Homo sapiens: one gene and its partners. The protein of the gene in region 2 purifies or fractionates together with the protein of the main gene of each other region. This does not show direct contact. Each region holds a gene or a part of one and is shown on either strand. Other genes may lie near its edges. The genes, in order: SNX18, BMP2 and MGP.

Region 1 (2,821 bases), on a different chromosome or scaffold from region 2:
TTTGTGAAGTAAAAGATGGCTAGGCCATTCTAGACATTACAAGATGCTAAGAAAGGCAGGCCAGGAGAAAAAACATATATGTAAAACAAATCTGTAAAGATAAGCAGATACAAGACTACAAAGCCCCACAAAGAGGGCAAGCTTTGCCAAATGGGACTTTGGCCCCTTGCAAGATATGCCAGGTCCCGTAGCTATTATATTTTGGCTTATGTGTGTTGGAGTTCGCCTATTTATGGCAACCAACAGACAGTATGTCAAGTACTTTACTTAAGCACCTGCTTCTGTCTCAGGTATTGGACTCATGGGAGCTATTATTTCAAAACCTCTCACTCACAACTTACTGCTATGTGCTTAATTCCTGATGTCACTAATGGAAGCAGATACTCCATGGGACTATCTGAATGATGATGGTTTTAAATTAATCAAATTAGCTACAGTGTTTGATGAATAATTTCTATGGTAACTGCAGATGAAGCTCAAGACAGAACATGCTCTTCTATTTTTCTGTGTAATTCTTCACATTAAATAAATGCCTCCTTGATGAGTGGAGAAAAAATAATTATATTCCATTGAAGCTAAGAAATAAAGCAACCTGTTTATTTTTTAAAAAGATAAACATGGCTGATCTGCACTAATCATAACATTTTGAAGGAAATAAAACAATATTCAACATTTCTAGACTACAAATAAATAATACCCTGTTTTACTTATTCTGTTAACCAAAGATGAAGGTGGAAATGAGAAAATTGAATGCTTATGGACTTAAAGGTATCAGACATGGCATTTGATTTTTGGAAAATGAAGACATAAATGGAAAATGGCTATGGCAATGAACTTAAGAATGACATTTAAAAGTTTTTACACAAACTTTACATACTTGACAGACTAAAACATTTTTCAAGTCCTTAATTATGAGAACAGCAGCAAAATTTAAGACAATTAAAAATCGGCATTTAAGAATCTGCTGTATTATTGTGAATAAATGCAAAACAACTGTATCAGTGAAGCCTGGGAAAATCTCAATTACTATAATATTCGTGCACTGGCTTTACATTTCACTTTTGAATGCGTTCCCTCATCCTGGGTGCAAACTGGGTACCTTCAGATACAACAGCTTGGACGGGGAACAAGATTACGACACATGGCTGTAGAACCAGTCTCGCTGCGTTACAGTTACAGCATATAAACAACTCTGTCTAATAAAAACAGTAAAACCAGGCTCAAGTGCACACCCTGTGTTACAAACACATCACATATCAGGATTATAAATCATAGAAATAAAGACAAATAATGGCATGAAGGGCATGATAGTTTATTTTTAAAAATTGTACCACACTGATCATGATGACCAGCATACACATGATAATGGCTTTTCTCTTGGGTTTAACATTGCAGTAGTTTTGCATACTGCAATGTTTCAATAGGACCAAGAACGTTAGAGAATAAAGATCTTAGATGAAAATGAACACTAATAATTCTAGTGTCCTCCCCCATAGAATTAATGTAAATCCCGTATGAATCAGTGGCATTATAATGTTATGTGGTTATGAAGAATGAAATTTCTCTTAGAAGTAGGCAGCATGAATTTATACTTACATAAGTATAACTTATACTTCCTTGTACTTTCATCTTTAGTTTTTATAATTTAAGCTATGTCCACCCTGGCTAAAGTACAATCATACAATATACCTCAGATAATTTCCATGCTACCATTGCACAAGTTTAGTGATTTTACTATTAAAAAAAAAAAAATCCAACCACCATCAAAATAAAGAGGCAAATAAAAGTAATTTTTAAATCATTTGAAAAGCATGGTGCTTATTTGTCCAATACAGACTCAAACTTAAATGCTATAGTTATAATTTCCAGACTTCCGCAAAATTAACATTTATATATACATATGGGTTTTGTTTATAGAACTGTATTTTGCAATCAACAAGTTTTAGAGACAACATATTTGGTTACAGTTCCACATATCTGTAGTAAAGACAAAGCCACATAATGTTCATGATGTTAAATCTGGCTCTAAGTAACCTAAGGTACAAAATTTTGACCAAATATCAAAATGATAATCTGATCTTAAAAATACAACCCATATGAAACTACTTTTTAGAGAGAAAATGTGCTGTTCAGTAATTATTTCAATAACCTTTTCTGAGTATCTGCAAACTGATCCTTTTCTTTAATCTTTGTGACTCACCAATATTTCAAAGTGACCTCTTCACTTCCATGTTACCATTTCAGTACCCAGGGATTTCTGAGGCAGCATAAGTTTGACTTCATAAAAACAGTAGATACTCTAACAGTGACAATTTTTAAATCTGTAAACTCAATAATCACATTAGTTAGCTCAGCAACTATAAAAACATTGAGATTGGGGCACTGTAAGCCAGAATCTCTTTGTGCTTTTTAAATTAAGCTGCTTTTGAATCTTTTTGGTATTTATCAGCCATCTGTATTTCCCTTATAATAATAAAAGAATACATTTAAAATAAATTTTAAGGTTAAATGTCCTGGGGGGGGGGGGCTCATCAATACCTTTTTTTTTTTTAAAACATAGTATAAATCAATTATCTTTTTCCTTCAGTATTTGGAATAGCAAAAATTATTTCTGGTCCCTCCTTAGATCAATCCACACCACTTTTCATGACATATTAACACTGAAATTTACAGACATCCCTGAAAAGTTTTTAAGTAAACAAGTGAATCACAGTGGAGTCTCAATCAGTTAACAGTGTAGATCCATTTTTTTTCAAAAAACTGAATATTAAAAGAAAATCTTCAACCTAAAAACAAAAACAAAAACAAAACCCTCCTAAGA
Region 2 (3,657 bases):
GGGAGCCAGGGATTCCCCTTTAGTAACTCCGCACCCTCTTCCTGGCTTGCAGCCAGAAGAGCTACTCCTCCTGGAAGAATTGGAGAGAAATCAAGTGATGGGGAAGATGAGGGCAAAAGGCATGCCTCTAGTCAGCTAAACGTGCAAGAATTCCACAGAGGGAAAAGGAGAAAAAGGGAGGCAGATTGAGATTTCTTTAAGTCTGTTTGGAAGCTTTTGCTCTATAAATCTGCCGCTTAAGCCAGGGTTTTAGGGTAGACAGAGCCAAGGGCAGAGTTTTCAGAGATAGTATTGAAAAATCAAAGCCCAGGGCCCCAAAGTCTTTCTAATTTATAGTTGATCTGGGCCTGGTTTGGAAGATTTTGAATCCCAATCTAATCCCCGTGGGAGATCAATACTACAATCAATCTTATTGTTTCCACAATGACTTTCTTGTCCTGTGCTTAAATCTGAGATAGGCTCTGAGTAGAGACAAGGCAAGCCTTCAGATAAAAGCGTTTGTAGCAGCTGCCTGTTTTTTTTTCATGTGCACCGAAATGTGGATTTTTTTTTCTTTTATGATACTACATGTGGTTTTTCTAAGGTGGGATATTTCTGCTTGTTTCATCAGAAGGGCATTTAGTGGACTGGAAATGTCTTACAGCAGCTATTGAGGTCTGCTGTACCTAAGTTCTTAGAGCAATTAGTCAAAAATATGTTCCACTTCAATTCTTTTTCTACACTTTTAAATGCTTCTTTGGCTTAATACATTTAAAATAGAGCATGGGTTTCTTCAATTCCTAGAAAAGAGTACAAAAGTGTATATCACAGAGCAACCACTTGGCAGATATTTGGGGAGTTGGGAGTGAAGTTCTCTTTCTTGCCTTTCCCTGCTTAGGTGGTAAATTTCAAGTGGGAAATTTACACTGATAATAGACTAATGGGAAATGGCACTTCCAGATGTTTTCTCCCAGTGTGAAGGGTGACTTATACTTGTGAGAGTATTTGTTGGTAATGGGAATAAGTCCCAAAGGCAAGCCACATAGCAGAAGATACGTTCTCATTGAGGCAGCTACACATTACGACGGGGACACTGAATTGATCATCAGTTCATTTACAAGCACATTTCTAAGTGAGGTGCTCTCTGCTAGCAGAAATCAGATTTGAAAGGCAGTAAGATCTCACTCCACTCTTTCAGAATTCATCCAATGAAAGCAGAAATCACCTGTTGTCATATGTAAAATTTGTGTGTATGTGTACATTCTGCCATCTTAACCCTGAAATGATTATAGATCCAGCTAATCATTCCCAGGTAATGCTGATTAGAATACTTTTTTTTTTGTATAGGAATGTAATAAGAACAACTGTTTTAGACACCTCTTCTGGAAATTTAGCATGGAAGCTCTCAACTTTATTTTTAAGGCCTGGAAGATGCTGTGTCTCTGTTACAACTTAAAAGGAAGATCATTTAAGTTAGTTAACACCTAAAACATTCCATTGTGTGAGGATTTTATCAGTGATGTCTGCATATTCTCATCATTCATCTAGAAGTGGTTTGATCAGAACTAAACAGGCTACACGTTATTCAACTGTGTTATTTTAACTTAAAAAGCATGCTTGAGTTTATAAAATCAGAATTTATATCTTTGTGAGTGTAAATGTTACCTGAGAAACAGTACAGAAGTGACCAACTTGATTAAAATCAACTTGTAATAACTTCAGGTCTTAATGCAGTTAGATAATGGAGAAAAGCTATGTAATTTTGCCCCAAATTTCAACTAATCCATTTCTTGTCTCATTATGACTAATATATCATCCTTAATCTGGATGGATATAGCACTTTTTTCAAGACTAATCATTGTTGTATACACCCAGGATTTGCTTTTGATAAACATCCTTGTGCCATGCATGCCACGAAAAAAGTTTTTGGTAAACCATGTGATGAAGGTTGCTGGCTCAAGAACAGAATTTAGTTTCTACAGCATTAATGAGCATTTATTTGAAAAAAGACCATAAAGACCCAATCATAAGAATTACCTGTTGGGTTTTCTTTGTAGGTGTGATCGAATGGTTTGGTGGAATTACTCGACGAGATATCATGATAGCATTCTTTCAACCAATATGAGTATAATGCGACCATATCATAGGGGATCTGAGACAGAATTATCAGTTGTATTTTTCCTATTGAATTTTGTCTAGTCCTTTCTCCAGTGGCTTTTATTTGGGAGAATATCAGCTTTGCTAAAATGTTATTGTTTTCAAGATCATTAAAAAGTGCTTCAGCTACATAGACCTTTGGAAACTGCCATTGAACATAGAAAAGTCAGTTCTGCAAGTGGAAAGAGTGTTTTGTGTATTGCTGTAGTTGGAAACACATTGAAACTGGTTGACTTCACTGGCCCTCCAAAAAGTCTTTATGCTTTTTTGTCAGATGGGAGAGAGAAAGACCAGGTGCTTCTTGTTCTCCTCACTCTGAAGGACACAGTCTTCTTTCTACATGAAATAACTGGATTATTTGCCTCTGTGACTGAAGCTTTCAAATAGAGATTAACCCTCTTTCCACAAATATAATTATTATGAAAATATCCATATAATAGAAAAGTTCAAGAAATAACTATTGCCCTGCATTAGAGACTTTGTGGCACAAATTCCCCCGTGCAAACAACAGATTTGGACACATAGATCCACCAAAACCAATACTTACCTGGTATGGTTCCCTAGTGGCCCCAGGTATTTCATTGTCATTACAGAGGCCACATTAAGTAGGAAAATTACTCTATTTGGAAATGGTTGTTGAGATTGAGGCTTTGGTGTCCAGTGATACTTCCTTGGCACTGACATTTTCCGTTCCACCTGTTTTTTAGTGGTTCCCCTAAATTTCTCTTAATCCCTTTGCAGTGAACTATTTTGCGTTCTTAGACTTGCTCTTTGTGTATTTTCACTGAGACAATAAGAGAATATTTCATCATTCCGAAGGTGTTGGTGTTAAGGGTGGGCAGAGGCCAAATCAGGGTTGTTGATGACAACCATGCTCTCTATTCCTTTATTTGCCATTCCCTTGTTGTATTTTTTTTAAAATGGAATGTTTTTAACCTTTTGTATTTGATATTTTTTTTCTCCTTGATCAGTTGTCTGTTATTTTATTATCTGGAAAATCTTATATTATACTCAGCCTCTTTCATTTTGTGTTAGGGCAGTGACTTCCAGCCTTACTGATTGCCAGCATATCCCCAGGTTTTGTTGTTGTTGTTGTTGTTTTACTGGAGATTTTTTAGCCCAAAGTGTGTTTTAAAATCCTCGAAGCATAACGGTAACTTACTTTTTTGATAAAACTTACCATACTTTATTTAGAACAAAAGGGCAGCCACAAAATAGCAGTGGCTCCTTATAAAATAGACACATTCCAGTGGGCCCCGTCACTTTTCTGCTCATTTCTGTCTGTTCTGTCCATCATACCTAAGTCATATATTTCTGTTCATTTAGTTGGGACAGAACTCACCCAATGTTATCATTGTACTAAATATAAATGTGCCCCTAATGGTTTTGACTTTTGCTTAAGTTTTTGAGTCCTCATGTATGTTAGGTAGTGCCATCTAGTAGCCAGAAATTTGGGAACTGGCTGGGCATGATGGCTAATACCTGTAATCCCAGCACTTTGGGAGGCTTAGGTGGGTGGAT
Region 3 (4,192 bases), on a different chromosome or scaffold from region 2:
GATATGAAGGTATTTGCATTTCTCCTGTTAATGAAGGGATCTTAGAACAGAAAATAAATAAATGCAGTTTTAGCGACACATAGCTGGAAATATTTCCGTGAATATTCCTTGACACAAATATATTTGAAAGTGCCTTAACTTATGCAACTCATATAAACGGAGATTGGCAAAAATTAAAGGAGAGTATAAAGTAGATTTCATTAACTTCCTGATCAAATGAAATCAGTAATCAATCCATGTGTCTTAGAGACTTGTCATATAGGCTTTGTTGGTTTTGAGTTTGGACGATCACTTTGCCTTTCTTAATTTCTGTATTTCTACTTGGTAGATTTTAAATTCCTTTTGAGGAGAAATTCTCTGTCCTGAGGATTTATGAAGCATAACTAGATTGCCGATACATGAACAGTTTAAACACTATAAAAATAATGAATAAATTAAAAATGAGAGTGATGTGCCATTTCCTCCTATGCTCAGTCTTTATAAATCCAGCTATTCAACAGCAATCAGCTGGCTGGGTGTGGTGGCTCATGCCTGTAATCCCGGCACTTTGGGAGGCTGTGGTGGGTGGATCACTTGAGGCCAGGAGTTCGAGACCAGCCTGGACAACATGGTGAAACCCCATCTCTACTAAAAATACAAAAATTAGCCAGGCATGATGTCATGGGCCTGTAATCCCAGCTACTCAGGAGGCTGAGGCATGAGAATTGCCTGAACCTGGGAGGTGGAGGTTGCGGCGAGCCGAGATCACACCACTGCACTCTAGCCTGGGCGACAGAGTGAGACACTGTCTCAAAAAAAAAAACAAGAAAGAAAAACACAAAAAAACCAAAACAGCACTCAGCTTAACGTGGCGCCTGTGGTCTCCCAGCTGACTTGGCGTCCAGCTCTGTGCTTTACCATTTGTCATTACTCCTCGTTTTCCATCTGTGCAGTTGACGTGGTGCCAATTTAAAATTTCCAAATGAGATTTTATGGCTTCTAAATATGTCGCCTGTAGCTTAAATCCCATATTGCACTACTTCAAACTTAAAAAATTGCTCCTTTGGCAATTTTTATAGTCATTAGATTTAAAAATTTACTTTAGTTTTCCAAAAGAGGCCCCCTTTTCCCTCCCTGTTATATATCTTTCCATCTTGTTTATTTAAAAATAAGAAGAGGTTCTTTAATGCAAGGGATTTGAATAAAGAAGTTAAATATTCACTTACTAAGTTCATAAGATTCCATGCTTTCATGTGATTCTGAAATTAAAAAAAAAAGATTCATTATATCAATATTTATCCATGATTCATTATGTTATTATTTATCAATTTAGACACTGTGATAGTTTAAATACAGGGATGGAAGAAGAGGAAAGAGTCTAAAAACATGAAGAATATATTTAGCAGTGTGGTTATTAGAAATTTCAGGAATTTAGGATTTATGAGGTTTTTCTCTAGCTCTGGCCTTGCTGTGGATATCTCTATATTTTAGTTTCTCTGATGTTGAAGGAGGGAGTGGCCATTTTCAGCTAAAATTTCCCAAGGGCTATGACGTCTTCAGACAAGCAAAATAAGACACTTTAAGTGCTGTACAGAAGTCTCCAGAGAACCTTCTTCTCTGATTTATTCAGAGCCTGTTTGAGAACAGGGTCAAAGAGGATTAAGAAGGATCCAGAAGACAGCCAGGTTTCTCCAGGCAAGAGAACTACAGGGCAGTTGCTCTGCTGGGCTTACTAGGGCAGGTTTCTAAGAGGGTTCCGAAAGCCTCTTAAGAACCTGTGTTAAATTGGCAGCCACAGAAACCACTAGCTCCAGCTGACAGCTCACCCTGGGCACGATGCCAGTTCAGAGAGAGAACTGAAACGATATCAAAGCCGAAGTTTTCTTCTTTCTGCCACTCTCCTGAGCACAGCAGATAAATTTTGGAATAAGAAGCTTCTATTAATATTTGCCAGCAAGTGAATTTTCTTCAAAACTTAAAAAGGAGGTGAAGAAATCAAATCCTCTAATACAGAAAATTTGTGAATACAAGAGTGAGAAGCATAATCTTTATGGTTGTTAATGTAATTTAAATTTTAAAACAATGAAAATATCTAGGTAATTGAAACAAAAGACTGAAATAAGTAAATAACTTTGCTTCAGATTTCCTTTTATAAGCTTTGAACAAATGCAGGTATATTTAATGACATATAGAAAACAGGCAAAATTTATTTTCTGACAACAGGAGTTATGAAAATGATTCTTTTCTAAAATTCTTTTGATGTAAAACTTTATTTTAAAATTAATTAACTGAACAAACATAGTAAGTTCATGAGATTGTCCAGTCCCTAGAAAGGGCTATACTTAATACTTCACATAAAAATGGATTTTCTCAAAGGCAAGTGGTTTAAACAATACCCTTAACCCATTGATACCAAAGTCTAAATAAATATCCTTAAAAATGAGGATGCAGGGGGCTGGGAATTTGGTATCTTCTTTCTGAAATATGAGTTTCTAGATATACAGAGACTTACCACTGAACGGGTTTGCCTGTTAAGTTGCATAAGACTCTGGATATTTAGGATATAAAAAAGACTTAATAGAACAGATCAGTTTCTGCGGAGACTGGGAAATGTGAAAGTAATGGTACTTTAAGATTATAACAGAGAAAGGGGGAAGAAGAGGAGGAGGGAGAGGAAAAATAGAAGTAAGCCAAAGTCAGAGGCAGAAAAGTAAACACAGAGAAATGGGAGAAAAGTTTCTCACCATAACACAAAGTTACTACCGCTAAGGCGGCCAGGATGGCAAGAAGGATCAGGCTCTTCATGGTTTCGTCCTGCAGGTCAGTCTCAGGGTCTTGTGTAGCAGCAGTAGGGAGAGAGGCTCCTACGGGATGTTAGTGGAAGGCTGTGAGGTTTTTATAAGAACCAGAGCAGTTGAGAGGGGAGGAACCAGTGGGAGAGAGCTGGAGAAGGTGGGGAAGGGTTGGCACTGAACTAGCATTGGAACTTTTCCCAAACAGTCATTCCTTCCAGATATTATCTACTCTGAGTGGGCAGTTTTCCCTAACTGCTGGACCTGACTGTGTTACACAGGATGCTGCTCTGGTGCAGAAGTTTTGGCCATCGTATGCTTGGGGACAGACCTGGGCAAAAGCCCACAGAGGAAGTTGCCACAAACACATGATCTACCCTCCTGGCCCTGACCGCAGGGCTTTTGGGTTTGGTCCACAGACAGAGCCCTAGTGTTCTGTTTGTTACCCTGATTGATTGATGAGAGGTTTTGGGGGAGAAAGGACTTCACTTTCTTTTCTTTTCTTCTTTTTAACCTTTGCCTCTTCTTCTAGGAGAACTTCGCTTTCTACACTGATTATAATTTAGACATCTTCCCAGTAGGGCTGAATCCTAGACCAATCTATCAATCCCAGACTAATCAGGCATTTGCCTGGGGATATGCATCTTTGGCATTTTTCCAAGGGTTCATCAGGATGGAGATATCCGGTGCACCATGAGTTCTGTTTCCTTAATCAACACCGTTGTAACTTGCCCATCCAGTTTTGTGACATTAATTCAAACCTGTGCCCTAGTCCTCTTTTAGGCAGCGTATCAGTGCTGGAAAGTGCAGCAAGGATAAGAGGGTACTGTTCTCTCATTTCTGAGGGCGTTGTCTCGATAATTAACTAACTTGATAGACTTTTTAGTGAGTGGCAGGTGAGATGCAAGGTACTGTGCTAGGTGCTGTGGGGGATGTACAGACAAACAACACACCTCCCTAAGGAGGTAAGTAATAGCTACTTACTATTCACTTTGCTCTTTCACTGTAATGTATCCTCAAGCACAGGTTTTCACTACACCATCAGGCCCAGAAGTACTAGCTTATTTTCCACAGGAGGATTTCAGTTTGATGCCTCTGGTTATCTTGTATAGAGAGGTCTTTTCTTTCTTTCTTTTTTTCCCCCTTCTTTTGCAATCACAAAATCTGTCCTACCAGATGTGCCTCTCTTGCTTGGGAACCCAATAGTTTTCTTTGCAGACAACAGACTTGAAGTCACAGAGCAGCAGATTGTAGAAGAGCTACAGCTTCGGGACCTCTGACTCTTGAGCTGGAACAGCAATAGGGCTGGGTTGGGGGTGGGGTGGATGTGTCTTTCAATACTGATGTATTTCAAGGAGCAGTGATGAACTAGGTGGAGCCTCATGCTTCATTCTTTTTGTCTTGTTGGGATGGAGTTTCCC

Evidence for each region.
Region 1: the proteins of BMP2 (region 2) and SNX18 purify together in Homo sapiens (affinity purification with mass spectrometry; one large-scale study listed by BioGRID and IntAct). This does not show direct contact.
Region 3: the proteins of BMP2 (region 2) and MGP purify together in Homo sapiens (affinity purification with western blotting, with the first as the bait; one study listed by BioGRID). This does not show direct contact.

What each region holds. Positions count from the first base shown.
Region 1 is NC_000005.10:54,544,342-54,547,162, reverse strand, and holds the end of SNX18 (sorting nexin-18), read right to left. Parts: 3' UTR 577-2,821; downstream 1-576.
Region 2 is NC_000020.11:6,770,648-6,774,304, forward strand, and holds part of BMP2 (bone morphogenetic protein 2 preproprotein), read left to right. Parts: intron 1-3,657. UniProt on the Homo sapiens protein: Growth factor of the TGF-beta superfamily that plays essential roles in many developmental processes, including cardiogenesis, neurogenesis, and osteogenesis. Induces cartilage and bone formation.
Region 3 is NC_000012.12:14,883,008-14,887,199, forward strand, and holds the start of MGP (matrix Gla protein isoform 2 preproprotein), read right to left. Parts: upstream 2,848-4,192; 5' UTR 2,785-2,847; coding exon 2,724-2,784; intron 1,881-2,723; coding exon of another isoform or gene 1,806-1,880; intron 1,239-1,805; coding exon 1,206-1,238; intron 41-1,205; coding exon 1-40. UniProt on the Homo sapiens protein: Associates with the organic matrix of bone and cartilage. Thought to act as an inhibitor of bone formation.